Regions from separate parts of the Homo sapiens genome. Here region 2 is linked to region 1. The links come from fine-mapping of genetic effects on gene expression. A gene starts in region 1. The other region holds a variant in brackets. All regions are shown on one strand. Distances are from middle to middle. Region 1 holds the start of OCA2 (OCA2 melanosomal transmembrane protein). Region 2 overlaps OCA2 (OCA2 melanosomal transmembrane protein).

The links. PIP is the estimated chance that this variant, and not a neighbour inherited with it, causes the effect.
Region 2: its variant is the best candidate, but not a certain one, in a credible set for the expression of OCA2 in caudate (GTEx, PIP 0.64).

Annotation. Positions count from the first base shown.
Region 1 is chr15:28,091,116-28,106,231 of GRCh38, forward strand. OCA2 (OCA2 melanosomal transmembrane protein) reads right to left here and starts at 8,200. Exons shown (of 24, transcript NM_000275.3): 1 at 8,109-8,200. RefSeq lists an enhancer at 7,495-8,147.
Region 2 is chr15:27,962,019-27,977,134 of GRCh38, forward strand. OCA2 (OCA2 melanosomal transmembrane protein) reads right to left here. Exons shown (of 24, transcript NM_000275.3): 15 at 4,672-4,804. Among named protein-coding and RNA genes, the nearest start is that of OCA2, 130 kb to the right of the region's middle. The variant C/T (reference allele first, on the strand shown) is at 6,686.

The sequences.
Region 1 (15,116 bases):
CAAATTACTATAACTCACCCAATATAAAATGGGTAATGTCAATAGCTCTGTAATTTCTATTAAGTAAATTAAATTTGAATTTTTACAGAAGAAATCTCTAGGGTCAGATGGTTTCACTAGAGAATTCTACCAAACATTTAACACCAATTCTATACAATCTCTTCCAGAAAATAGAAAATGAGGTATACCTCATCAGTGAGTTTTATGAAGACAATATTACCCTGATACCAAAATCAGATACAGTACAAAGAAAAAATACTACAGGCCAATATCTCTTATGAATATGGTGCAAAAATCTTTAACAAAATATTAGCAAAGGGAATTCAGTAATATATCAAAAGAGCTACACACATAACTAAGTAGGGTTTGTTCCAGGAATGCAAGGCTGGTTCAATGTTCAAAAATCAATCAATGTTGAACATGGAGCTACCATATGACCTAGCAATTCCACTTGTAGGAATATGCCCATGAGAAATGAAAACATATGTCCACACAAAAATGTGTACAATAACATTAATAGGATCATTAGTCATAATACCCTAAAAGTGGAAAGCACCCGGCCCTGCACGGTGGCTCACATCTGTAATCCCAGCACTTTGGGAGGCTGAGGCAGGAGGATCACTTGAGGTCAGGAGTTTGAGACCAGCCTGGCCAACACGGCGAAACCTCGTCTCTACTAAAAATACAGAAATTAGCCAGGCATGGTGATGGGCACCTGTAACCCCAGCTACTTGGGAGGCTGAAGCAGGAGAATCATTTAAATCCAGGAGGCGGAGGTTGGAGTGAGCTGAGATCGTGCCACTGCATTCCAGTCTGGGTGACAGAGCAAGACTCCATCTCAAAAAAACAAAAGTACAAACAACCCAAATGTCCATTACTAAATAAATAAAATGTGGTATATACACACAGTGGATTATTTGACAATAAAAATGAATGGTGTCTGACACATGCTAAAACATGAATAACCTTTGGAAACATGCTCAGTGAAAGAAGCTAGTCACAAAAGGCCACATATTGCCTGACTCCATGTATATATAAAATCTTCAGAACAGGTAAATCCATAGGGAAATAAAATAAAATAAATTAGTTGCTGCTTATGGCTAGGGGAGGGGATAGGGTTGGAGGGAAATGAAGAACAAATGCTAATGAATGTGGAGTTTCACTTGGGTTAATAAAAATGCTCTAAAATTGATCATGGTGATGGTCACACAACTCAGTGAATATACTGAAAAAAAACATTAAATTGTACATTTTTTTTGAAACAGGGTCTCTCTCTGTAAACCAGGCTGGAGTGCAGTGGTGCAATCACGCCTCACTGCAGTCTTGTCCTCCCAGGCTCAGTGATCCTCCCACCTCAGCCCCCAAGTAGCTGGGACCACAGGCACACACCACCACACTCAGCTAATTTTTTATTTTTAGTAGAGATGGGGTCTTACTATGGTGCCCAGTCTGGTCTCAAACTCCTGGGATCAAGTGATCCTCTCACCTTAGCCTCCCAAAGTCCTGGGATTACAGGTATGAATTTGTACACTTTAAATGGGTGAATTATATGGTATTTAATTATAATCTCAATAGAACTGTGAAAAATATCAAGCAATGTAATCTACCATATTAAAAGCTAAAGAAGAAAAATCACATGGTGATATCAATTGATGCAGAAAAAGCATTTAACAAAATCCAACACCTATGCATGATAAAACAAAAACTCTAAGAAAACTAGGAATAGAGAGGAACTTCCTCAGACCTATTAAAGAACATCTGCAAAAGACATAGAGCTAACATTACGCCTAATGGTGAGAAACCTGAAGCTTTCTCAGGAAGACAAGGCAAGAATGTTCCCTCTCACCACTCCTAAACAATTTTCAAAATTCAAAAGTAAACAAAAAAAAAAGTAAAATGGGCAAAGATTTCACTAAGGAGGATATGCACACGGCAACTAAGCACGTGAGAAGACATTCAAGATCGTGAGCCATTAGGGAAATGCAAATTAAAACTATGAGCTATCACTGCACACCTATCAGAAAGGCTGAGATAGAAAACAGGCCAGGCGCAGTGGCTCACACCTGGAAGCCGAGGCAGGCAGATCACCTGAGGTCAGGAGTTCGAAACCAGCCTGACCAACATGGTGTAACCTCGCCTCTACTAAAAATACAAAAATTAGCCAGGTGTGGTGGCGGGCGCCTGTAATCCCAGCTACCGAGGAGACTGAGGCAGGAGAATCACTTGAAACCAGGAGGTGGAAGTTGCAGTGAGCCACTGCACTCCAGCCTGGGCGACAAGAGCAAAACACCGTCTCAAAAAAAAAAAAAGAAAGAAAGAAAAAAGAAAACAGAGACAACACCGCCAGCTGCCTAGGACTCGAGAGGGTGGTTCACTCCTGCATCACCAATGGGAATGTAAAATTGTACAGCCACTCTGGAAAGCAGTTTGACAGTTTTTAAAAAAAAACTAAAATTGCAACTACCAGCCAACAATTGCACTCCTGGACATTAATCCCAGAGAAATGAAACTTTCATTCACACAAAACCCTACACGCAAATGGTCATAGAAGCTATATGAAAAATTGGAAGCCACGCAGCCGTCTGTCCGTAGGGGAGTGTGAAATAGGCTGCGGTGCATGCATGCCGGGAAGACCACGCCACAATCAAAAGGAACAGACAATTCATACACAGCAACGTAGAGGAATCCAGAGTGAAAATCCTCAGTGAAAAAAAGCAAGTTCCAACAGACTATTTACTCTGATTCCATGACTACAACATTCTTGAAACGGCAAAGTTATATCAATGGGGAACAGGTTAGTGGTTGTCCGGGGTTGAGTAGGGGCTCTCGTTCCACCTCACTTCCTGCCTCTTCCCTGGGAGACAGAGGCCTCTGCTCACCCAGAACTCTCCCTCTTTCTCACACATTCCTCATCCAGTTCTTCCAAACACATCCTAACTCCTCCTAGTCCCACCTGGTCATCGCCTCTCATGCAGATGATGGAGCACTCCAATCCCACAGCCTGTCCCTTAGGGGACCCCAACACCCTAGCACACAGCCTGTCTCCTAGGGGACCCCAACACCCTAGCACACAGCCTACCTCTGGGGGACCCCAACACACTAGCACACAGCCCGTCCTCTGGGGTGACCCTCCCTTCACCCCAGCCCGTGGCTGCACTCTCACGGGAACCACAGCTTCAGCCTGGCTTTGCTTTATTGGGCCCCATGCGCTTGACTTGCCTAGGGCAGGGCCACCCTGGGCAGAGCTCCCGCCCGTAGGGACACCTGCAGCTGGCGGGAGAGGGGTAGGGGAGCTGTAAGCCGGCGGCACAGGGCGGAGTATGCCACAGCCCCAACCCACCCCTCCAGGTCCTCCCCGCGATGGCGCCCAGGACCCTCCTTCCAAGCAAGACTCACACCGAAGTCACCAAATTTTAGAAAGAAAAAATAGATAGTTGTGGCTTATTTTTAGAAAAAAAAAATAGATGGTTCAGAGTCGGTGGAACCTTCCAGTCCTCACACTCAACCCCAAATCGTTCGTGTGGGCTACTGCCGGCCCTCTCTCCGGCTCTGCGCTCTTTCTGCCTGCAACCGTGCCCCCGAACTCGGGCCCTGCGAGGTGGGGGTGGGCCCGGGCCCCTCCTGCCGCCCCTGCTGCCAGCACCGTTCTCTCCGAGGCCCTCAACGCCCCGCCGTGCCGTGGCCTTCAGAGCGCGCCAGACGCTCACCAAGCCTGCCCGAGCCCCGCCTCCCGCAGCCGTGCCCAGGGCGGAGTGGGGCGACGGCACCGGTGCCAGGACCGACAGAGGCCAGGGCGCGGCGCCGGGCGTGGTCCTGACACCTGCCCTGCCGGGAAGGGGACGGCGTTCCACGCCTGGGCCCTTCTCCACTGCGTACAGGAGCCTGGGTCACCTGCTCGGCCCAAGAAAAGGCTCCAGGCCTGCGGGTGTGAATGAGCAGCAGCCAAGAGAGCGGTGCTGCCGGCGCTCAAGCTAGGCCGGGTCACCGCCTCCTGCCCAGGTCCAGGCAGCCCCGGCCTTTCCCGCTGGTACTGGCACGCCCGTGGCCGCACGGCTGAGTGCTCCGGGCATGGTGGGTCTGCGGGACTCGGAGCAGAGCTCGAGCTGGCGGATCCCCGGTTGGCGCCCGGCGGGAGGGCAGGAGTGGCCCAGCCAGGCCGCCCTGCGCACTCCCCGCCCGGGTGCGCCCGGGGGACCGCGGCCCTCCCACCCCGCCCCTGTGAAACGACAGCCGGCAGCAGGCGCCGCACGCCGACTTCACAGTGGCGGCGATCAACAGCGTGTGGAAAACAGCTTCTTCGTAAATCTTAAGAACATTGTGGCCGGGCGCGGTGGCTCACACCTGTAATCCCAGCAATTTGAAAGACCAAGGCGGACGGATCACTTGAGGTCAGGAGTTCGTGACCAGGCTGACCAACATGGAGAAACCCCGTCTCTACTAAAAATACAAAAATTAGCCGGGCGTGGTGGCGCGTGCCTGTAATCCCAGCTACTCGGGAGGCTGAGGCAGGAGAACCGCTTGAACCAGGGAGGTGGAGGTGACGGTGAGCCGAGATGGCGCCATTGCACTCCAGCCTGGACAACAAGAACGAAACTGTCTCAAAAAAAAAAAAAAAAGAACATTGTTCTTCGAGTTCTTTAAATATCTGACATAATACCGGCAAGGAACGAGAAGCACCAGGTTTAGGCGCTGAGGTGAAAATTTGGCTGTTGAAAGGCAGTCCCTCTGCAGCCAACTCCCCTCTGGTGGACAGTGTCTAACATCCAGAGAAAACACCCGTCACTGAACGCTCCCCTCCCCACAAAGCGCTGCTTGGCCCCAAATCGTCCCTAATGCGCTGCTCAGCCCCAAGGCGTCCCTCTGAGCGAGAAACCGCCCCTGGCTATGCTTGCAGGGGCCTGGCTGGGTCCACAGGGCATGGCTGTGTCTCTCGGAGCACGGCCCTTCTCTCCGGGGGCCTGGCTGCGTCTGCAAAGGCGTCAATGTGTCTCCGGGGGCGTAGCTTGTCTCCGGGGCGTGGTCGTGTCTCCGGGAGGTGGCTGGTCTCGGGGGCGTGGCTTGTCTCCAAGGCGTGGCCGTGTCTCTGGGGGCATGGCTTGTCTCCGGGGCGTGGTTGTGTCTCCTGGGGCGTGGTCGTGTCTCTGGGGCTTGGTAGTGTCTCCGGGGGCATGGCCTGTCTCCGAGGTGTGGTCGTGTCTCCGGGGGCGTGGCTTTTCGTTGGAGGTGGTCTGTCTGTGTCGGGCGTGACTGTGAGCCGGAGGCGTAGCCGTGTCTCGGGAGCCTGGCGGTGTCCGCAGGAGCGATGCTGTGACCGTTGCATTTGAAGCATTCCTTCTAGTTCCCGGATCCCAGGGAGGGGGCAGGAGAAGCCCTGCGGCCAAGAAGGCCTGAAGAAGCCCGTCCAGGGGTCAGCCTCCTCCTCAGCCGGTCCTGGGCTGAGACAGGGGTGTCCCGCTGAGGGCAGTGTAGGGTGCGGTGCCCCCACCCCACTTCGGGCCTGGACCGAGACCGCGAGTGTGACCGTATATCCCTTCAGGTGGATTTTTCAACATGTGAACTTGGTTAAAAGCTTCTAGAACGTTAAGCCAAACATCGTGGCTTTCCATCCGTTTTCTGTTCTTGTTTGAAAGAGTACGCCTCCTTCCAGCCTGGGAGGAGGGGCGGGGCCCGGGAGAGGGCCTCGGGAGGCCGCGGGTGGGCTCTGCCGAGGGCCGCGTTCGCAGGGCCCCCCGGGACTGGCGGCCCCGCGGCAGGCCAGGCGCACCTCTCGGGGAGAAACGAGCAGCGCCAGCAAACGCGCAGCCGGGCACGCGGCCGCCCAGCCCCGCTCCCAGCCCGGGGCCAGGACCCCTCCCCGCGGCGCCGCTGCCGCAAGCCTCCTCTGCTACCCCAGCTGCGGGCAGTTTGGCCCGGCGCTGTGCCGCTGTAGTTCGGTGTCCCTTCGCCCATCCTGCAGGCCAGCTTGGAAACTGTGTCCCATGCTCCTCGAAACACCGGACCTGCTCCCCGCCGCCCTGCGGAATGCGCCTCCTGGCGCCTCAGTGGGTGGCCGGGCCGAGAGCACAGGCGCGCCAGCCACACCTCCCCACGGGTCGGACCCACACGGACCCCGCCGCGCTCCGCCGAAACTGCGCGGGTCCCGCGGGTGGCCGGCGCAAGAGCCACAGCCCGCGACAAGCCGGCTGCCTGCAGGTCAGTGACAGAACCCCAAATGGAAACTGCGGAAACCCAACAACCAGCGAGTGAGCTGGTAGAGCCAGCGGCCCCAAGGAGCTGAGGGAGCTCCGGCTTGTGGAGTCTCTTCTCACATTTCCAGCATATGGAGAATGCCACACTGGGTCAGCCCCTGCCCCAGATCCTGCCCCCTGGCCTCCAGGCTCTGGGCTTTCCTCCCCTCTGTGGTAGCCTTTATCTCCATTGCAAGCCATCTTTCCACTACTAACAGTTAAAAGCCTCCCCTTTCTCTCTACTCTCCCAAGAAACCTCATCCTCACCTGTGGACAGGTGGCCGCCCAACTCTCTTCTGCAGCTCAAACCACTGTGTCCATCTACCTCTTTGTGTCCCTAGACATAAAGGTACCCAAAACTCCCAGAGTGCTGAAGCCACACCTGGCCTTTCCCAGGGGCCCACTGATCCCACCATCCATCACCCATCACCAACTGGGAATCCCCCCTGCAGCTCACCAGTGCTTCCCTGCCCCGGCCTGGCAACCACACTCAGTGGGAAGGCCTTGGCAGTGGCTTTCTTCAACTCCCCAGCTGCTCCCAACCCCCCAGCCACAGTGATCTTTCCAAAATGCATATGGCCTCAAACTCAAAATATTTCCTTGCTGCCTGCCACTCCAGCATAGAAACGGGGACCCAGGTGACACAGGTGTCATGCCGCTGGGTTTCCAGGGACAGCCAGGACCTCCCCATTCCTGGTATTCCTGATATCCTCAGATCTCAGCTGCTCCAGGGGCTGGAGGTTGCGTTCTTCTCATAAAACAAGAACAGTATAGGCATTTGCTTTTCATCAGTGTAATGAAACTTTAGGGACTTATGATCCTAAATCACATTACACCAATGTGAACTGCACTCAAATTGTTGTAAACTAAATTTGCAGAACAAGCAGTTTTTGTGCAATTCTTTGCAGTCTACTCAGCTCTTTCATCTCTGTGTTCAGGTTCAATCCTCATTAGTTCTTCTATGAGAGATAGTTATCCCCAGATGCGTTCAATGCTCAGCTCCTTGCCCTGGCAGGCCCCGTCCCAGGGTCCTGGATGGCAGATGCCATGCCCGCCCCGCGAAGCTCAGGCTCACCAAGCAAGCAAACCGCAGCTGGTTTAGGTAGACAGCAGCTGCCCACAACTGCTAACAGCCTCGGGTTTCTTTTCCTCAGAATCACTCACCCTAAATCTACACATTGTAGACTGTCACATTGGTCTAAGTAGTGCTCCTCAAAGTGCACTGCACATTAGAGTCACCTGGGGAGCTTCACCGCCGGGCCCCAGGCTCTGATTCGCCCAATGGGAAGGGAGCACCGGGCACTTGTCCTGAGCCCCTGGCCCCTGCCTGGTTCTGCAAACCCAGAGCGTCCACATACCAGGCTTCCTGTGCTTAACATTGTGTCCTTGAAAAGAGCTAGCTGCACTAATGCCCATTGATTTCACTGTGTGTGACCACAGTAAAGAGAAGCAGCTTTGAGGGATTTAGTGTTTTCACTCCAGTGCATTCCATTCTAAGGAAACGCCTGACCACGGCTCATGGCTAGGAGGCCCCGCAGTGCCAGATGCTGCCCTGGAGTTCAAGTGGAACATTTGCTGTCTGAACCTTTCCAAACTCCCCCCACCCATGACCTCATGGCCCACCAGGGGGCGACTTTTTCCTGGGTCGCCTGGCAGAGAGCCGGAGGGGGTGCTCAGGGGGCAGCTGCTGCAGGCCCAGGCGGACTCAGCCGCGCTAGGTCGGCTCCGTCGCACCCGTCTGTGCACACTAACCTTTAGGGGAACTTGCCTTGCTTCCTAAGCCGCGACTCAGCCGGGGCTGTGTAAACCCTCCCTGCCTGTTCCCAGGCTAGTCTGGCTCCTCGCCTCCTTCCTCCCGACCGCGGAGCACGTGCACTTTACCTGCGCACTTGCAGATCTTTCTCCAGGAGTGAGTTTAAGGTCCGCACCTCCGCTCTGGATGGTGAGCGGAGCACAGCCTTCGAAGTAAGAACTCAGAGGGAGCTCGGCGCTCCCGCAGCGGGTCCCCCACCCAGGCACGCCCCCGGCCCGGCCCCGCCCACAGCACTCCCCACTCGGCCCCGCCCACAGTGCGGCCACGCCCGTAGCACGCCCCTCCCGGCCACGCCCACAAAGCTGCCCACATGGCCCCGCCCACAGCTCGCCCGCTCCGCACCCCCGGCCCCTCAGCTCCCCAGCCCCCGGCGGCGCGGGCTGAGAGCAGCTCCGTCTAAGGCCACGCCGCCCCGGCGTCCCCGACAGCGCTCTCCGCGGGGATAGTTTCCAGCTTTACCTCTAAAGAGGCGGCCCAGGACTGCGGACAGGCTTTTCCCTATGAACAAGAACGGGGAAATGCTCAGTGAACATTCTGTTCCCTTCAGAGCTCTCCCAGCGGGCACTGAGAGGCCCTCCAGCTAGGACGCCAAGGTTACACTTGCCGACAGCCCCTCCTGCAGCACAGACACACACACGAGATACACAGACACACACAGATACACAGACACACACAGATACACACAGACACACACACAGATACAGAGATAGACACGATATACACAGACACAGATACACAGATACACATACACAGAGACACACACAGAGACACAGCAATACACAGACACACAGATACAGGACACAGATACACAGATGACACACAAGGACACATGCAGATACACAGACACACATACACAGATACACACAGACACATGCACAGATACACAGAGACACACACACAGGCACAGAGATACACACAGATACACAGATATACACACAGACACAGATACACAGACACACACAAATATATACAGATACTCAGACACAGATACACAGACACAGGTACAGACACACAGATACAGATACAGAGATACATACAGATACAGAGATACAGAGACACACACAGATACACACACGGACACACACAGAGATACACAGACACAGATATACACAGGCACACAGATACAGACACACAGATACACACATGCACAGATACACACAGATACAGAGATCTACACACAGAGATACACAGACACACAGATACGCAGACACAGAGATACACAGATACATAGACACATACAGACACACACACAGATACATGCACAGACACACACGCAGATACACATATACAGATATACAAACACAGATATACGCACAGACACACACAGATACACACACAGATACAGACACACACACAGATACACGCACAAACACATGGAGACAACACAGCTACAGACACACACACAGCTGCAGTGGCCAGGCCCTGCACAGGAATTGGCAGGAAGTAAGAGGCTCCATCCACAGTGTAACAGCAGAGCTGAAAGAGATCTCATGCCTTATAACAGAGCACATTGCACAGCCACAGGGTGGGCCAGGGGTTGCCCTGGTAGCAGGGACCGAGGATGTCCTCGGCATGGCAGGCTCCAGGACACTGAAGTTCCCAGCCAGGGCCCTGACAGCAGGAGAGCCCGAGATCTCTGAGACCACATTCACTGTCGCATGTGCAGACCCCTCAGTTCAGACCGCCGTGTGCGTTAGGTGTGGATATGGCTGGCAAGCAGCCTGCATGGTGACCCCCATCCTTGTGGGATGGCGGCTCCAGGGAGCCTGTGACCACCGATGCACCAGTTCCCGTCCCAGAAATACTGTCTCCTCCTCGCTCATCACTGCACCTGCTCCCCTCCCAGTGCCTCAGGGACACTGTTACAGGGCGGGAAGGGGCTGGGGCACAGAGCCCGGGGGAGGCTCCCTGAGTGGGCAGAAGGCTCTTGGTGTGCACGCAGATCTGTCGAAATGCGGGCTTTGAAACGCCAGCAGGACAGCTGCGGCCAAGCGTGTGGCTCTCTGTGCCTTGCAGGTCACAGTTGTTTTTGTGTAACTGCTGAATGTATGGGGAAGGAGCAACCCTACCCCAGCTCCAGGGATAGACCCTGAGTGGCCACAGTAATGGAGGAAACCCAACTTCCATGCCAGGGACTGGCTCGGGTGAGCCAAATCTATGTGTCCCAGCCCTGGCGGCAGCTGAGGGGTGACAAAGCCCCCCCGCGAGCCGACAGGCACCCACACCCAGCACAGCCACATGCTCACTGTCTCTGGGCTTCTTAGCTGCCGTCAATCAGTCCCCTTGGTTGATTGACCCTCAGGGCCAGATGGGGTTTCCTTTCCTGGTGGCTGAGAGTGAGTGTTGCCTGCAGATGCATCAATGGAAGCCTGTGTGTGACTCGAACAGCCAAACTTGCCTTCAAGGGGCACCGTGCTTCTTCAGTTACAAGTGATTGGGGCCAGTCTCAGAAATGATGTGGTTTCTCCTGAGCATGAAGATTTGGGTCCCAAACAAGATATGATATAGAATTATACTTTTTTGGCTGGCCAAGGAAATTCCAGAAGGAAATCCCAAAATAAGGTCCCCCTAAATGTTCTTGGCAAAGAACAGCACCATTGGAATCAGATATAAAAGCCAAAGGTGGCTATTTCCAAGCAGAGGGCTGGGATGCGGTGTCGCTTTTGTGTACGTGTATGTGCATATTTTATGTTTGTGGGTGACCCAGTGAAGGCACCCTTGGCTTCTTGCCCTGGACAGGCAGTTGTGACTCAGAGGACAATGGTCCAGGAAAGTGAGAAGCTCTCAGAATTGGGCAGGCCTGAGGGTGCAGGAAAGCGCTGCCTCCCCAGACCACAGCATCCAGAGAGAAGAAAGCGCCTCCCAGCCCAGCCCTCCAGCCCCGTCATGGGGAAATCTGTCTACAGCTTCCCTTTATGAATCCTTCCCCAGGGGTCCCCGGGGCCACCTGCTGTGCAGGCCTCTGCAGTCCCCAGTCTCTGCCTGTTCCTGCCATGGTTCAGCCCACAAACCCTATGCACCCACCCCTGCCCGAAGTTGGCTTGATTCAGCAAGCATTCTGTCAAGTTCCCAGATCCTGCGGGTCTGGAATTCAGAAAGGCACAGTGGAAACAGCTCGTCTGCTCCCCACTGCAGCCAGGGCAATGTGAAAGCTGGAAATGACTGGAGTCTGGAGGATCCGGAGGTGCACTTGCTCACTCTAGGGCGGGTCTGTCGGCTCTGCCACGTGGCCCCTGCACCAGCTCTTGGACTTCCTTACAGCATGGCAGCTGGGGCCCAAGAGACAGGAAACAGAAGCCACCAGTTCCTTAGGGCCTGCACCCAGGACTGGCAGGTGTCATTTCTGCCATATTCTATTGGCCAAGCAGTCAAGGAGCCCAAGGAAGGACACAGACACCAGTTCTTGAGGGGAGGAATGTCAAAGAACATTGGAGCCATGTTTTTTGTGTTTGTTTCTGTTTTTGAGACGGAGTCTTGCTCCGTCGCCAGGGTGGAGTGCAGTGGCGTGATCTTGGCTCACTGCAACCTCCGCCTCCCGGGTTCAAGCAATTCTCCTGCCTCAGCTTACTGAGAAGCTGGGACCACAGGTGGGCGCCACCACACCCAGCTAATTTTTGTGTGTTTAGTAAAGATGGGGTTTCACTATGTTGGCCAGGATGGTCTCGATCACTTGACCTCATGATCCGCCCACCTCGGCCTCCCAAAGTGCTGGGATTACAGGCGTGAACCACCGCGCCCGGCCAGAGCCATGTTTTAAAGTTACCACGGCTTTAGGAGGCAGGAGCTGCATAACATGAGGGCATGATGCTACCTTCTGAACTTAAATTCCGGACTTTAAAGACATGTTTAAATGTAATGAGCTGTGGAGTCACAGGAACTCCCATTCATTGCTGGTGGGACCGCAAGATGGTACAGCCACTTTGGAAGACAGTTGGGCCGTTTCTTACAAAACTAAACACTCTTAGAATATGATGCAGCAACCAATGTTCCTTGGTATTTACCTAAATGATTTGAAAACTTATGTTCACCCAAAATCTGCACACGGGTGTTTATAGCAGTTTTATCTGTCATTGCCAAAACTTGGAAACAACCAAGATGCCTTTCAGGAGGTGAATGAATAAACAAACTAGGGTACATTCAGACAATGGAATATTTATTATTCAGAGCTAAAAAGAAATGAGTTATCAAGCCATGAAAAGACACAGAAGAACCTTAAATGCAGATTACTAAGTAAAACAAGCCAATCGGAAAAGGCTGCATACTGCCTGATTCCAACTAGATGACTTTCTAGAAAGGTAAAACTATGGAGACAGTAAAAACATTGGTGGCTGTCAGGAGCTAGTGGGGAGCGGAGGGATGACTAGCTGGAGGGGATTTCAGGGCAGCGGCCCTAGTCTGTATGATACTGTAAGGCGGATACAGGGCATTAAACATTCGTGCAAACCCACAGAAGGCACTGCCCGAGTGAGCCTCGATGTAACCCGAGGCCTCTGGATAATGCTGGTGTGTTGGTGTAACCCATGGGCCAATCTGGTGGGCAGCATGTGCACTGGGGCAAGCTACATGTGTGGGGTGGGTGTATATGGGACTTCTCTGTACCATCTGATCGATAATGTCTTTCTTTTAATGAATTAGAGGAAAATAGAAAGTCTCATTTGTCTGTGGGGAAAAAATCAATTTTGAAAAGTGAGTGGGATGGGCAAAAACTCCAGGACTGACTCAGGAATAAAAACGATTATAAACTTCATCCTGAAGAGGGTGGGTCCTGTGACTGGGAGGGGCTGGCCCAAGTCCCGGGTCATCCTGAGCTGAAGGCTCCATGCGGAGGGGCGGCCCTGGGTGGCAGGAGAATGGGGAGGCCAGGCCCGTGGGGGTGGGAAGAAAGTGGGGTCCTGAGAGCTGGTGCTCCAGCGGGGAGCGAAGCTGGACACGGGAGTCTGCAGCTTGAGGGACGAAGGTGCCTGCTATTGCTTCTGGATGTTGAGTAGTTGGTATCTCTGTGCGTGTGTGTTTCCATTTGCATTTGGATCCCATGAGACATGAGGCCCAGGAGGTCCTGCAGACAAAAGCCTCCCACCCTGTGGAGCTGGCCTCCATGCAGAATGGACCCATTCGAAGACCTTTTTAAAACGATCTTTTGTATTTTCTTGTTTTAGAAACGGGGTCCCTCTGTGCAGCCCAGGCTGCAGGGAGGGGCATGGTCATAGCTCACTGTAGCCCTGAGCGATTCCCTGTTTGAAGTGTTGACTATCTTGACTATCGGGGAGGAGTGAGGTCTGCGCGATTCGGCCTGGAGGACCCTGAGTAGGACTCACTCGCCAGACTGGCTGCCAGTGGGCCTGGCCCTTCCTGACATGGTGAGCCATCATGGCATGTCCCTGGCAGTGACAAGGAATGTCCTCAGGCCCCGACCCTCCTGTCCAGGCCACCCAGGGCAGGCCTGTCAGGGGCCTTCCTTGTTCCAATTTTTCAGAGGCCCAGCGCTCTCCTTCCGCATCCTGCCCACCTGCCCAGCTGCAGGCAGCATGGGGAGGGGGATGGGGTGGGGAGAGGGTAGGGAAGACGGTGTGTGTGAGGGTGAGTGTATGTGAAGGGGCCAAGATTTATGTGTTTAGGAGGTGTGTATGTCTGTGGGGGGTGTGTGTGACGGGCTGTATGTAAGGGATGTATGTGTGTGGGGGGTATATGTGTATGTGTATAGGGTGTACGTGTGTTTGGGGTTGGTGTACGTGTGGGTGTGTGGGTGTGTTTTGGTGTATTTGTGTCTGGGGTGTGGGGGGAGGGTGTACGCATGGGTGTGTGTGTACATGTGTGTGGTGGGTGTGTGTTCATCTGTGTGGGGTGTGTGCATGTGTGGGGTATGGGAGTGTGTGCGCATGCGTGTGCCTGGTGTGTGTGGGGTGTGTGTGCATGTGTGTGTCTGGTGTTTGAGTGGGGTGTGTGCATGTATGTCTGGTGTGTGTGGGGTGTGTGCATGTGTGTCTGGTGTGTGGGGTGTGTGTGCGTGTGTGGTGTGTGTGGGGTGTGCGCATGTGTGTCTGGTGTTTATGTGGGGTGTGTGCATGTGTCTGGTGTGTGTGGGGTATGTGTGTGGGGGGGTGTATGGGGGGTGTGTGCATGTGTGTCTGGAGTGTGTGGGTTATGTGCGCATGTGTGTGCATGTGTGGGTGTGGGGGTGCATGTGTGTAGTGTGTGTGGTGTGGGGGTGTGGTGTGGGTGTGTGTGTGGTGTGGGGGTGTGTGATGTGGGTGTGTGGGTGTGGTGTGTGTATGGTGCGGTGTGTGTGTGGTGTGGGGTGTGTGTGTGCATGTGTGTCTGGGGTGTTTGGGGTGTGTGCATGTGTGTGGGATGTGGGGGTGTGTGTGGTGGGGTGTGTGCGCGCATGTGTGGGGTGTGTGTGCGTGTGTGGGGTGTGTGTGCATGTGTGTCCGGGGTGTGGGGTGTGTGTGCATGTGTGTAGGTTGTGTGTATGTACGTGTGCTGTGGGGGTGTGTGTGGTGTGGGGGTGTGGTGTGTGTATGGTGTGAGGATGTGTGTGGTGTGTGTGTGGTGTGGGGGTGTGTGGTGCGTCGGGTGTGTGTGCATGTGTGTCTGGGGTGTGTGTGTGCATGTGTGTGGTGTGTGCATGTGTGGTGTGTGGGGTGTGTGTGCATGTGTGGTGTGTGGGGTGTGTGTGCATGTGTCGGGTGTGGGGGGTGTGCATGTGTGTGGTGTGTGTGCATGTGTGTCTGGGGTGTGGGGTGTGTGTGCATATGTGTTTGGGATGTGGGGTGTGTGTGCATGTGTCTGGGATGTGGAGTGTGTGTGCATGTGTGGGGTGTGGGTGTGTGTGTGCATGTCTGTGATGTGTGTGTGCATGTGTGTCTGGGGTGTGTGTGCATGTGGGGTGTGAGAAGTGTATGTGTGTGTGCATGTGTGTGGGGAGTTCTGTGGGGTGTGTTCACGTGTGTGAGGTTTGTAGGGGTGTGTGTACGTGCCTCGGGTGTGTGTGTGCGCATGTGTGTGGGGTGTGTGTATGTATGTGTCTGGGGTGGTGTGTGTGCGTGTGTGGGTGTGTGTGCATGTGTGTGTGGGGT
Region 2 (15,116 bases), 130 kb before region 1:
AAACAAAATAAATCTATTTCCCAGATGATAGGAAGATGACTGATATTTATCTAGCTATCATCTTCCTAGATCTATCATTTCCTAGATTAGATGATAGATTACAGATAGATAAATAGAAGATAGACAGATAAATTCCTTCTTTCAAATATCCAGTAGTTCCCCGTGGCCTGTAGAATAAAGCTAAAGATGTCAAAGATCTTCAGAGAAGACTCAAAACCCCAAATGCCCAGCACCATTGTGAGCTCTGATTCTGCCATATAAGTTTCAACTCTTTGTCTTTGCCACCCTAGCCTCTTACTAGGAGACATCATCAGATATCCCATGTCTTACCTCTCTATCAGCCTCTATCTTTCTGAGCTTCTCAACCAACTTCTGATGGTATTACTTAGAGTGGCCACATACATGTTTCAAACAGGCAAAGAAAGTGCCGTGTGGGATGTGCTCTGACACAGGAGGTGATGGCTTCCAGGGAAGCCTAGAGTAGTGAGCTCAGAGCTGGGAATCTCAGGAGAAGAAGCCTAGGCCAGAAAGAGAGAAATGGAACTATACTAGTGTTAAGTTCTTCTACTGTATGTTAGGTAGTATAATATCGCTCAAAGTTAGTGGTATAATAGTCACTAAAATCACAAAACAGAATTAAAGCCAAAAAAAGTAACAACCAACAGAGGAGAAAATATAGAATGTATTTAAATACTCAATTAATTCAAAAGAAGGCATAAATGAAGAAAAGGGTAATAATGAAGCACAAATATAAAACAATAATATGATGTTACACTTAAATTCAATCGCATCACTAAGCACATTAAATATAAATGGTTTAAGAGACAGACTATCAGAGTAGATAAAAAATCAGGATGCTAATATATGCTGCTTACAAGAACTGTACTTTAAAGATATAAATAAGTTAAAAGTAAAAAGATGGAAAAAGATACACCACACTAACACTAGTCAAGAGAAAAATGAAATTGTTATATTAACAACAAAGTATATTTCAGAGCAAAGAATATTATCATGGATCGCAAAGATTGTTTTTATAGCAAGGTGTTAAATCATCAAGATGAAAGAACAATCCTAAATATTTATGTGCCCTAATAGTAAACTTTTAAAATGCATAAAGCAAAATAATAGAATTACAAAGAGAAATAAACAAATCTATAATCAACCTTAGACACGTCTGTATCCATCTCTCAATAATTAAACAAGTAGATAGAAAATCAGCAAGAATATAGAATACTTGAATAACATTATCAGCCAATCTGACCTAAGCTATATAATTGACATCACTGAACATCCCTCCTAACAAGAGCAGAATACGTTTTCATTTCTAGTGCACACAGAATGTTTACAAAGGTAGACCACATTCTATAGCCATACAAGCCTCAATAAATGTTAAAGGATTCAAGATTTATGAAATATATTCTCTTACTACAGTGGAACTAAATTAGGTAACTGCAAAAACTTTCCCAAATACTTGGAAGGTATATAAACCATCTAAATTATCCAAGGATCAAAGAAAAAATAAAAAGATGCATTATAAGATAATTTGAACTGAATGAAAATGAAATAAAAATAATAAATTAGTGAGAGGCCACTAAAGTAATACTTAGAAGGAAATTTAGAGCACTAAAGGCCTATATTAGAAAATAAGATGCACATAAAATCAATAACCTTAGCCTCCACTTTAAGAAACCAGTGAAAAAATAAGCAAGCCTGAAAGTAAGCAGAAAAAAAATAAATAAAGAGCACAATAGACATTATTAAAAGAGAAAAAAATTGTAGAGAAAAATCTATATAATCAAAAGCTGGTTCTTTGAGATCAATAAAATTGATAAACCAACCAAAGAGAGAGAGAAGACACAAACTATCAAACTACCAACATCAGGAATGAGAGATATGACATTATCAAAAATTTGATAGCCCTTAAAAGGATAATGAAAGAATATTATGAACAATTTTATAACAATACATTCAACAACTTAGATTAAATGGACAAATTCCTTGAAAGACACCAACTACCAGTCAACACTCAAGGAGAAACAGATAACTTGAATAGCCATCCCTATATGTATATTAAGGGATTTGAATTTGTAGTTAAAAACCTTTCCACAAAAACATCCAGGCCTATAAATGTCCAAATAAACATTTAAGAAAAAAGTAATAGCAATTCTACAGAAATTCTTCCAAAAAATTGAAGATGAGGAAATATTTCCATATTCCTCCTATGAGGACAACAAAAAAGACATTACAAGAAAGGAAACTACAATCAAGATCCCTAATGTACACAAAAACAAAATGCTAAACAAAGTATTAGCAAGAAGCAGCATGAGTTGAACATTTGGTGATCAGAGGGATAGGCTCTGGTGATTATTGTTCTTTTCACCATGTAAGTCATGCTCTCTCCCATTCTGAGCACCTGGCAGGCTGGCCTGTCCTGGTCCCTTGTGACTGGGTGGGGCCTGCCTGTGTCACTGGATGGCAGAATGGGACCATGCTATTCTCTTTGCCTTCAAGGCTAGCCGCTCAGGACTCTAAGAACAGATGATGATCAGGGCCCCTGCCAGTCCATTGGGGAGGGGGCGGGGGGTACAAAGCCAACACAAGGAAGAAAACACAGTTCTGGAAGTCACTGAGATTTCAGGGTTACTTTTTCACTGCAACATAACCAAGCCTGTTCTGACAATGCTCTGTACACCACCACAGGCCTGCTAAACTCAGATCTCTTGAGTGGGGCTTGGGAATCTGCAGTTTTACCCACCACTCCAAATTTGGAGCCCTCTAAGCCCCACAGTGGCACAGAGCAATCACCCCACCTTGCACTGCTGGTCTTAGCCCGGCCATAGGGTTCCTGCATCACCAGGTGTGTCCACTTCCAACCATCACTCCCCACTTCCCTCGAAGCTTTTCTCTGTTCCTTACTCAGGAACGGTGAGGAATTCATTACAGAGATTATTTTCTGTGTGTCTAAATCTGTGTATCCCAAATTCATCTCAAGATTAGACTCTTCAGGACAGCTTACTAACAACACAGAATTCCTGGGGATGACGCTGAAAATCTGCATATACAACAATTGTCCCAGGTCACTGTGATCACCAGGGAGGTTGGGAGAGGCTGGCATAGTTGGGCAGGATGACGGTTGAGCTCTCCACTAAGACACAGCTGTGCACACACAAGCTCCAAGAGACAGGACAATTATCCACCACGATCACAGTCTCCTTCACTCTCCCTTAGTTCTAACATTTTCATCAGAAAAAGAAACCTATATATTAATTTATCTTACTTTGCATATATTAGTTGATTATAAAACATTCTAAACACCTCTAACTAGTTGTTATGGGTTGAACTAGGTCCAGCCCCCAGGTAAGATGAGTAGATATTCCCAAGAACAAGCTTGTTTTGACAGATGAATCCTGAGGAGGAATGCAAAACAATGTTTTCTTAATGAGATTTTTTAAATACTCAAATTCTGAATAACATGAAAGTCACACAGATCTGTCTTGGACAGTCAGCATCGGAGGAACTGGAGTATGGCAGGACCATGTCGTGGCCTCCAGCCACCCATGTGGAAATGGAATCTGGGTATCTTATCCAGAACAAAGACAAACTGAGATCCTGTAAAACACAGGCCAGCAGAATCACAAAGGCTGAGAGAGATCAACATGCAATCCGTGAGCTCTACAAATTCCCAAAGAAGAGCGCCTTCATCTGCTGAGCTCTGGTCGCCTGATGCCCCTGTTACCCAGGCAACCTGCACAGCATCCATATTCTGGAGCTCGTCAAGGAAAGGCTGCTTGTTTCCCAAATAATCTATTGTTCCTAATATATTCTAATCAGTAATGATCTCAGTAAAACATCTACTAAAGTGTTTTAGTGATGAAAATGCAAAACGATAAGATGGCCCTAAGCCCTCATCCTGCTGGCTGGTGCTCAGCATCTGCTGTTTGTTTGTTTGTTTGTTTGTTTGTTTGTTTTTGAGACAGAGTTTCACTCTGTCGCCCAGGCTGGAGTGCAGTGGCACGATCTTGGCTCACTGCAACCTCCACCTCCTGGGTTCAAGCAATTCTCCTGCCTCAGCCTCCTGAGTAGCTGGGATTACAGGCCTGTGCCACCATGCCCGGCTAATTTCTGTATTTTTAGTAGAGACGGGGTTTCACCATGTTGGCCAGGCTGGAGTCGAACTCCTGACCTGATTCAGGTGATCCGCCCACCTTGGCCTCCCAAAGTGCTGGGATTACAGGCGTGAGCCACCGTGCCTGGCCTAGCATGTGCTCTTGATTGACAGGGCCCATCACCTCCTGTGCTGGGTTATGTTGCTGTTATTTCCAGTCATATTTAAGACTCAAGCTATGATACACTATTAGAGCACTGCAGTCTATATGTTAGTGTATTTGTACCATATACACGTGGCTTTAGGGGGTTATGACATGTGAGTTGTACATGGTGGCCATTACTTCCCACATTTTACCACAGTACACTTCACAGAAAACTAAAGAGGCACAGCTCATGATAGCAGCCCTGAAAACAGTGTATACTAGAAGGTGGACGTGGAGAGTCACTGGTATTGAGCATCCAGCAACCCATCAACAGATACTTCCTAATAAGAACTTCTCCTGGTAAACAAACAATATTATGGTCATGAAATCTGAGCCTACATGAGGTTGCACTTGTACTCACCAACAATCTCACTGGGTTCCTTGTTATAAAGCTTTCTGTTCCAGTAAAGGAGTCTGAGGAGCGGAAAGCAGACCAGGAGAACAAGGCAAATCCCAATGAACATGTGTGCAGTGAATCCGGCAAAGTCCAGGCCCTGGAAATAAACAAGGGGAAATGAAATGGCAGCCCAGGCATGGTGGCTCACGCCTGTAATCCCAGCACTTTCCGAGGTGGGTGGATCACGAGGTCCGGAGATGGAGACCATCCTGGCTAACACAGTGAAAACCTGTCTCTACTAAAAAATACAAAAAATTAACTGGGCGTGGTGGCGGGTGCCTGTAGTCCCAGCTACTCGGGAGGCTGAGGCAGGAGAATGGCGTGAACCCGAGAGGCGGAACTTGCAGTGAGCCGAGATCATGCCACTGCACTCCAGCCTGGGCGACAGAGCGAGACTCCGTCTCAAAACAAACAAACAAAAAGAAACGGAAGACGGGCCTTTCCTCCGCACAGGCAGCAGCTCCCTGAGTCAGGGTCCAGGGAGGGCCAGAGCCCAGGAGGGAAGGGGCTCACCAGGAGTTCCAGGACCTTAGGCAGAGGTCCTGGAGCCCAACACAAAGCCCACGAAAGACCACGGATTCCTTACCATGATTTTGAAAATTGTTAACGTTTGTTTCTTTCATGTCGAAAACCAAAAACCAATTCTTACACAAATGACAAGCCATCATAGGAAGAAACAAAAACAGGCTACCACATCTAACTCAACCTTGGCTTGGTCCATCTTCACCACTAGATTGATGCCTTCCCCAAGATAGGGTGAAAAAAGACTGAATGGGACAAAATACTAAACTATATGATAATATTTGCCCATTTAAAGGTAAGTTGAATTTTTAAACACTTCATTTAAGTCCCTGCCATCGGTTTGAAAGTGTCCTCGTGGCTGGAGAGCACAGCCCTTTGCAGGGCACTCAGGGCCCATCAGGGCTGGGATCGCTTAGAGCATGGGGACCAGCCGCAGGGACTCAAGCAGGAACCTCTCCTTCCCGGCACGCTTCCTTTGCCTGCCTAGGGCTCTGCACGTGGCCGGCCACTGAGGGTATCTTTAGAGTTGGGCAAATCCCCACTAGGTTGATTTGTCCTGGAATAAGTCAGCGGCGTCATTGGTTGGTTCTGTTCTTTCACACACAAACGTCCTGGAATAAGTCAGCAGCATCATTGGTTGGTTCTGTTCTTTCACTGACGTCCTGGAATAAGTCAGCAGCGTCATTGGTTGGTTCTGTTCTTTCACTGACGTCCTGGAATAAGTCAGCAGCGTCATTGGTTGGTTCTGTTCTTTCACTGGCGTCCTGGAATAAGTCAGCAGCGTCATTGGTTGGTTCTGCTCTTTCGCTGACGTCCTGGAATAAGTCAGCAGCGTCATTGGTTGGTTCTGTTCTTTCACAGACGTCCTGGAGTAAGTCAGCAGCGTCATTGGTTGGTTCTGTTCTTTCACAGACCATGTGCTTTTACACCTTCAGCACATCTGTGCAGGCACCTCCTGAGCCCCCAGCAGGACAGATGAGGCTCTTATCCCCATGAAGCTGGCCATCTGGCAAGAACTCAAGGTCTTTTCTGTAGTGTCCATGAATCACAGGTGCCACAAAGGGGGTCAGAGGCACAGTGACAATGCACGACCATGGGGAATGACAGGGGCAGGGTGGGAGGGACCACGGGCAGTCCAGCTCTGCCTTGGGACCCTTAGGAACCTCTTACATAGGTAGAGGGGTGGCAAGTCACACAGAACGTTAGTGAGGATCCCACGTTGGGAGTTTGGAAAATCACCTTCCAAAGGTCTGGGTTTGAGTGATTTAAACTATATTAATTGTTCCTTATTAAAATTTATGTATTTTTCCTCTCACTTTTAGAAAATATGTGAAATCACTTTCAACATTATTAAAGATACAACACAACTAGAGGCCATTATCAATGAAGTTGTGTAAAAGTTTAGAGCTTGCCAATATACAATAATCTGAAATGCTTAATCCCTTGCAGTTACCGG[C/T]ACATCCAATGGTTGTCCTTGAAAACAGCATTACAAATGACAGGTGGAGCTATATAAGCTAATTCCTGGACAGATGGCAGGGAAACCACACAGAGGCGGGACTCATGGAATGCTTTGGGTGATCATATAGAAGAATTCACCACTTTCCCGATAGTTCTTCAATGGGGGTATTACATTGAATTTTGTGTTTATCTCTATAATTCATACCCCAGATATCTGAAAAAGATCCACGATACTTTTAGGGGCTTATGAAACTGTTTTAAATTCTTCTAAACTCAGAGGCAAAAAAAAAAAAAAAGGAACTGTTGCGTCAGAGAAAATGATTTAAACTATAGTACTAATATATTTATACACTAGCTGGGTCATGAAATGCAATTGTTAATATTTTTTAGAGAAAATGTCCCAAGAAGACAGAAGTACCTATATCCTGAGTAATTCTTGGTCCCTCTAGAACATAATAACTATAAAGTTTTGCCCCATTTGAAATGTTGGGGCAATTGGAGAAAAAAGTGATGAGTAGATAAAAGAAAAAAAAAAAAGTAAGGAGGTCCTGGGTGTGCGTCCACAGCAAAATGACACAGCACTGAGTGAAGCATTTGGTTGCTACTAGACTTGCGATGGGTGGATTCATCAAAAGAGCAATGATAAGGGAAAAATCCAAACTGATCACTTTAGGAAACAGGCAGATGCAGTGTGCAGTGGGATGCAGATGTTTGCACTAAGCTTATTAGGCGCAGGTATCTGGGACACCCTGCTGCTTTTACATGCCTCTGTAATTTCCTAGACTCTCGTCTGTGTTCCCAGTAACAAAACTATCCACCAGCACACTCACATCAATTCAGCGCCTAAATGCGCTCTTTCTGCTTCAAGGTGCCACTTCTGCTTTGTATTGTTTTATTATAGGCTCCACTCAGTCATTTTCTTCTTAATTTTCCCCACTGTCCTCATTTGATGGATTAAATGGCCAAATATTAGGCACGTAAACCAAACAAAAGAGGAACCCTCAATCAGATCAGAACATTCCCAGATTCATAATCTACATACATTTAAGGGGACACGCCTGAGGGACTTCTGGCCCACCAATATCATTTTCTAGGAATGACGCTTCAGGCTAGCTCTGTGACAAGTCAAAATGGTCCATTAGGTTGCAAAGGAGGGGCTCAAGCCAAAATGATTTCTTGAATTCTTCCATGTGAAAATTTAAAAAAAAAAAAAAGCTTCTTATGAAGTGTTTAGCTGAATCTATTGAATATTTTAGTAAAATATGCATGGTGTAATTTGAAAATATAATCCTGTCTAGATGGCCAGTAAGGAGAGGACCCAGCACTGCAGGAATGCGTGTGGGCCAGACGGGGGTGTGGGTCTCGCTGCTTGTAAGGGATCCATCAAGCATAGGTGCAGGGGTCCTGGCACACATGGGTCTAAAGGAAGAGCCTCTGGCAGAGACACAGATCCCAGCAAGCTGAAAACGGAGCAAGCCACGGAGGGGATGAGCTTTGCTAGCCAGTGCTGATCTGAGAGGAGAAAAAGGTCAAAAACGAAGACCCCTGAGCCCACAGATATTAAATAGGTGTGTGGAAACCAACAAACCAAAAAAAAAACCCCATAAAGGAAATTCAGAGGGGGCCAGAGAGGCAGAGCAGGGCCCACAAGAGAGAGACACTGTCTCAATTAACACCCAAGGGAGTGGGGGAAAAGCAGTAGTGGAGGAGAAGCCAAAGAACTTCACAGCACATGCAGCATGGCAGGAACGCAGGAAAAACGCCCCAGCAGGCACGGCATGGTGGGAAAATATGAAGAAGGTCCCAGCACACACAGCACGGTGGGAAAATGTAAAGAATGTCCCAGCACGCACAGCATGATGGGAAAACATGAAGAATGTCCCAGCATGCACAGTATGGCAGGGAAAGCCTGAAGAACGCCCCAGCACACACGGCATGGTGGGAAAACATTAAGAATGTCCCAGCATACGCAGTACGGCAGGGAAAGCCTGAAGAACGCATGCTGGGAAAACGTGAAAAACATCCCAGCACACACAGAATGTTGGGAAAACATAAAGAACATCCCAGCATGCACAGTATGGCAGGGAAAGCCTGAAGAATACCCCAGTACGTATGGCATGGTGGGAAAACGTGAAAAACGTCCCTGCACACATGGGATGGTGGGAAAACAGGAAGAACGTGGCAGCACCCACGGCATGATGGGAAAACGTAAAGAACGTCCCAGCATGCACAGTACGGCAGGGAAAGCCTGAAGAACTCCCCAGCAAGCACGGCATGGTGGGAAAACGTGAAAAATGCCCCAGCATGCAAGGCATGGTGGGAAAACATAATTATAATGTCCCAGCAAGCACAGTATGGCAGGAAAGCCTGAAGAACGCCCCAGCATGCCCGGCATGGTGAGAACACGGAAAGAACCTCCCAGCATGCAAGACATGATGGGAAAACGTGAAGAACGCCCCAGCACGCATGGCATGGTGGGAAAACGGGAAGAATGTCCCAGCAAGCCCAGCGCACAGTATAGTGGGAAAAGTATAAAAAGCATCCAAGTACACAACGTGGGGCATGAAGGGAAACCTGTCTTCTTACAAAGATGCTATTCAGAAGCATAGGGGCACGCTTCCCTCAAGAGACTTTTCAGGTATTATTTTAAAGATAGTTGAATAGTTTTGCTCACCATGGTGAGTCTCTGTAGAACAGGCATAAAGGAGCAAATGTAACCAGCAAAGTAAAACTTTATCCTGTCAGCTTGTTAGGAGCTGAAGGTGCAGTGGGTTGGTGCGCGTGGATGCTACAGCCAGGCCGACTCATGCTTACCCAAGGGAGGCTTGTGGCTGGGGAATAAGTGGTTGTCCATGTGGTGGGTCCTGGAGGTCCTCCCTACCTACCTGTCCAGTGCTGGAAATTCCACCGACAGAGAGTTATCCCAAGAGACCTGAGAGACCTAAGCCTCGTGCAGCAATGGTAGGTGGCAAGAACTTTCCTCACAACTTCCTGTCGTTTCTGCCCAATGCTCGGAAAATGTGGACGAGTTTTCAGATGTGACTTCTTTACTGTTCCAAACTCTAGTGCTGATTTGTTTATTATTCCTCCAAACTACATAAGTATTCATTTTCTTTGTGAATTTTTTTTTCATTAGCTTTAGGGGTGCAAGTGGTTTTCGGTTACATGGATAAATTATATACTGGTGAAGTCTGGGATTTTAGTGCACCCATCACCAGAGTAGTGGACATTGTACATAATATGTAGTTTTTCATCCATCAACCCCTCCTGACCTCCCCTCTTCCTAGTCTCCAATGTTCTCGTTACCAGTGTATGCCTTTGCATACTCACAACTTAGCTCCCACTTATATGTGAGAACATGCGGTATTTGCTTTTCCATTTCTGAGTTACTTCACTTAGAATAATGGCCTCCAGTTCCATCCAAGTTGCTGCAAAAGACATTAGTTCATTCTTTTTTATGGCTGAGTAGTATTCTATGGTGTGTGTGGGTGTATATACACGCATATCTCTCTCTCTCTCAAATTTTCTTTATCCACTTATCTGTTGATAGGCATTTAGGTTGAGTCCATATCTCTGCAGTTGTGAATTGTGCTGTGATAAACATAAGTGTGCCGGTGTCTTTTTGATATAATGACTTCTTTTCCTTTGGGTAGATACCCAGTGACTGGATTGCTGGATTGAATGGTAGATATACTTTTAGTTCATTGAGAAATCTCCACAGTATTTTCCATAAGGGTTGTATTAATTTACATTCAAACCAGCAGTGTATAAGCATTCCCTTTTTACCACATCTGTGCCAACATCTATTGTTTTTTGACTTTTTAATAATGGCCATAATGGCCATTCTGGCTGTAATAAGGTGATATCTCATTCTTTTAATTTGTATTTCCTGATGATTAGTGATGTTCAGCATTTTTTCATATGTTTCTTGGCCAGTTGCATATCTTCTTCAAAAATGTCTACTCATGTCATTTGCCTACTTTTTATTGGGATTATTTTTTTTTTCTTGCTAATTTGTTTGAGTTTCTTATAGATTCTGGATATTAGTCCTTTGTCAGATTCATAGTTTGCAAACATTGTCTCCCATTCTGTAGGTTTTCTGTTTACTTTGATGGTTATTTTATTTTATTTTATTTTATTTTATTTTATTTTATTTTATTTTATTTTATTTTATTTTTGTGACAGAGTCTCTCTTTCTCACCCAAGCTGGAGTGCAGTGGTGCAATCTCGGCTCACTGCAACCTCTGCCTCCCTGGTTCAAGTGATTCTCCTGCCTCAGCCTCCCGAGTAGCTGGGATTACAAGCATGCACCACCACGCCCAGCTATTTTTTTATTTTATTTTTAGTAGAGATGGGGTTTCACCGTGTTGGCCAGGCTGGTCTCTAACTCCTGACCTGAAGTGATCCTCCCACCTTGGCCTCCCAAAGTGCTGGGATTACAGGCGTGAGCCACCATGCCCAGTCTGCATTAGCTTTTCAGTTTAATTAGATCCCATTTATTTTTGTTTCTGCAGCATTTGTTTTTGGGGTCTTTGTCCTAAATTCTTTGCCTGGGTCAGTGTCCAAAGGAGTTTTTCATAGGTTTTCTTCTAGAATTTTTATGGTTTCAAGTCTTAGATTTAAGTCTTTAATCCATCTTCAGTTATATTGTATATCGTGAGAGATAGGGATCCAGTTTCATTCTTCTACATGTGGCTAGCCAGTTTTCCCAGCATCATTTACTGAAGAGAGTGTCTTTTACCCAGTTTATGTTTTTGTATACTTTGTTGAAGATCAGTTGGTTGTAAGTATTTGGCTTTATGTCTGGGTTCTCAATTCTGTTCCATTGCTCTATGTGTCTACTTTTATACTAGTACCATGCTGTTTTGGTTACTATAGCCTTTTAGTATAATTTGAAGTTGAGTAATGTGATGTCTCTAGATTTGTTATTTTTATTTAGGATTGCTTTGGCGGCTATTCAGGCTCTTTTTTGGTTCCATATGAATTTCAAGATTGGTTTTTCTAATTCTGTGAAAAATGATATTGGCATTTTGATAGGAATTGCATTGAATCTGTAAGTTACTTTGGGCAATATGGTCATTTTGTGATACTGACTCTTCCAATCCATAAGTATGGGATGCATTTCCATTTGTTTGTGTCATCTATGATTTCTTTCAGCAGTGTTTTGTAGCTCTCCTTTTAGACATCTTTCAACTCCTTGGTTAAGTATATCCCTAGGTATTTTATTTTTTTGGTAGCTATTGTGAAAGGGATTGAGTTCTTGATTTGATTCTTGGCTTGGTCATTGTTGGTATATAGCAGTGCTACTGATTTGTGTACATTGATTTTGTAACCTGAGATTTTACTGAATTCATTTATCAAATCTAGGAGTCTTGGAGGAGTCTAGACTTTTCTAGGTATAAGATCATATCAGTGGCAAACAGACATAGTTTGACTTCCTCTTTTCCAATTTGGGTACTCTTTATTTCTTTCTCTTGTCTGATTACTCTGACTAGGACTTCCTCTTCAGGAATAATTTTAAAATTAATTTCAAACTTAAGTTTTATTTCATAATCTGTTTTCTTCCTATTTGAGTTCCTTGATGAACAAGTAAACAATGCAAAATAAATATGCACATCATGTGAGGCAAATGTATGGCTGTGCTGTCACTATTGATAATGAGGCTTTATAAATTTATCTCTACTGAAGACACTGTCCCTGAAACTATGAGTGCATCTGTGTCTCCATACAGAGAAGTATTTCCTTATCTCCAAACTACTGTGAAATAAATTAAAATCAAGGCCGGGCATGGCGGCTCATGCCTATAATCTCAGCACTTTGGGAGGCCGAGGCAGATGGATCACCTGAGGTCAGTAATTCCAAGACCAGCTTGGGCAACACAGTGAAACCCCATCTCTACTAAAAATATAAAAATTAGCCAGGCGTGGTGGTATGCACCTGTAATCCCAGCTACTCAGGAGGCTGAGGCAGGAGAATTGCTTGAACCCAGGAGGCGGAGGTTGCAGTGAGCCAAGATCACGCTACTGCACTCCAGCCTGGGCAATAGGGTGAGACTCCATTACAGTTTAATTCCCAAATTCAGAGAAAGTCATTAAGTAGAAGACAAGGAATGCTGTCTTCAGTAAAATAAGGACAGTCCTAAGGCCATCTTCCCAGAGAATGTCACTTTGGCAGAAAATTGTATGACAAGCCTGGGCTGAGCCTCAGCAAGACCATAGGGTGTACTCACCTCCAGGGTCCTCACCTTTCTTTCCTACCATCGTATTTAAAACCTGGATATCTTAAAAAGGCTCGTCATATGCCATGGAGGATTGTAGCAATGGTCTGACAGACTGCTCTTTGCCCTCAGTTTTCTACGTGGCTTGGTAGAAACACAGCCAGTGTCTGTCTTGGGTCATATCATATTGTTTAGTTCAGAATATTTCGATCTAGGACTGTAAGGGCAGGCTTAAAATGATGCAGAGTTAATTCAGATTGTGTGTAAGAAATACACCATGCCTAGGATTTTACATTAACACTAATGTGATGCTAGTCAGGAGAGTTAAACTGTTGCAGCATTCATTAAATATTGTCTTAAAAAGAAGAAAAAAAAATAAGTTGAAAGCCAAGTTCTAAAGAGTGTAATGAAGTACAGTAGCCACATCTTCACTTGAACTATTTTTCTACCTATTCTACTACAACTTAGGTTTTCCACTAGAAATTAAGGTTTTAGGTTTTACACTTACATCTATGATCCAGTTTGAGTTAATTTGTGGATATAGTGAGAGGTGTGGACTAAAGTTCATTTTTCCTGAATATGAATATACATTTGTTCCAGGACAATTTGTGGAAAACGCTATCTTGTCTCTGCTGACTTGGCTTTGCACCTTTGTCAAAAATCAGTAGTTCACTTATGTGTGGGCCTGTATCTACACTCCCTACTTTATTCCATTTATCTATTTGTCTGTCTTGATGCCAAAACCACTGTCTTGGTTACTGAGACTTTATAATAAATCTTGGTGTCAGGAAGTACTAGCCCTTTCCATTTGTTTTTGTTTTCTTTTTTTGTCATTCTGGATACTCTGAATTTCTGTATAAATTTTAGAATCAGCTTGTCAATTTCTACCCAAAGAGAAAACCTGCTATAGTTTTGATGGGGATTGCTTGAATTTATAGATTAATTTGGAAAGAATGGATAGCTTAACAATATTGAGTTTTCCAGCCCATAAACAAGGTGTACCTCTTAATTTATTTAGATCTTCTTTAATTACTCTGCAGTTTTGTAGTTTTCAGTATATAGGCCTTGCGTATGTTTGGTCATATGCAATACTGAATACAGCATATGTTTTGTGCTACTGTAAGTGAAATTTTAATTTTCAGTTATTTATTGCTAAATATAGAAAACCATTAATTTTTGTATATGGACTCCGTATCCTGCAACCTTGTCAAATTTATTTATTTGTAGGAGCTCTTTTGTGGACTGCACCAAATCTTCTACGTGGACGATTGTGTCATCCGCAAATAAAGACTTTTAATTCTTCCTTACCAATATTGATGCTTTGTATTTCTTTTCTTGCATTATCACGTGAGCTACAGCCTCCAATAAAATGTTGAATAAAAATAGTGAGAACAGATATCCTTGTCTTGTTTCTGATGTTAGAGGGAAATCATTCAGTTATTCTCAATGAAGTATGATGCTAGCTATAGATTCTCAGATGTTCTTTATTGGGTTGATGAATTTCTCTTTTATCCTTAGTTTCTTGAGAGATTTTATCAGTAATAGATATCGGATTTTGCCAAATGTTTTTTCTGCATCTATTGAGATGATCATATGGTTTTCTCATTTAGTTTGTTAGTATAGTAAATTACATTGATTAATATTTCAAATATAAGAATCTTCCATTCCTGGATAAATTCTACTTGGTTAAGATGTATTACCTATTTAGATATTGTTAAATTGGATTTACTAATTTTTTAAATATTAAATCTATGTTCACAAGAAATATTTATCTATAGTTGCCTTTTCTCATACTGGTTTTGTCTAGTTCACATATCAAGGCCTCATAGAATTAATTGGGAAATATTCTCACCTCTTCAATTTACTGTAAAGCTTTGTATAGAATTGGTATTATAACATTATTTTTTCCTTAACTATTTGGGAGAATTCACCAAAGAAGCTATCTTAGCCTGAGTTGTTTGTTTATGTTTGTTTTGTTCTTTGTGGGAAGGTTTTTAACTACATATTTGATTCTTCTATAGATACAGGGCTACTCAGGTTACCTACTTCTTCTTGAGTGAAGTTTTAAAGAGTGTGTGTTTCCAAAAAATTGTTTATTTTATCTAAGTTGTCAAATAGTTTACATAGAGTTGTCCATGATCTTCTCTAAGAATAGTATTAATGTCTGTATGCTCTGTTGTAATATAACAACTCTTATTCTTGATATTAGTAA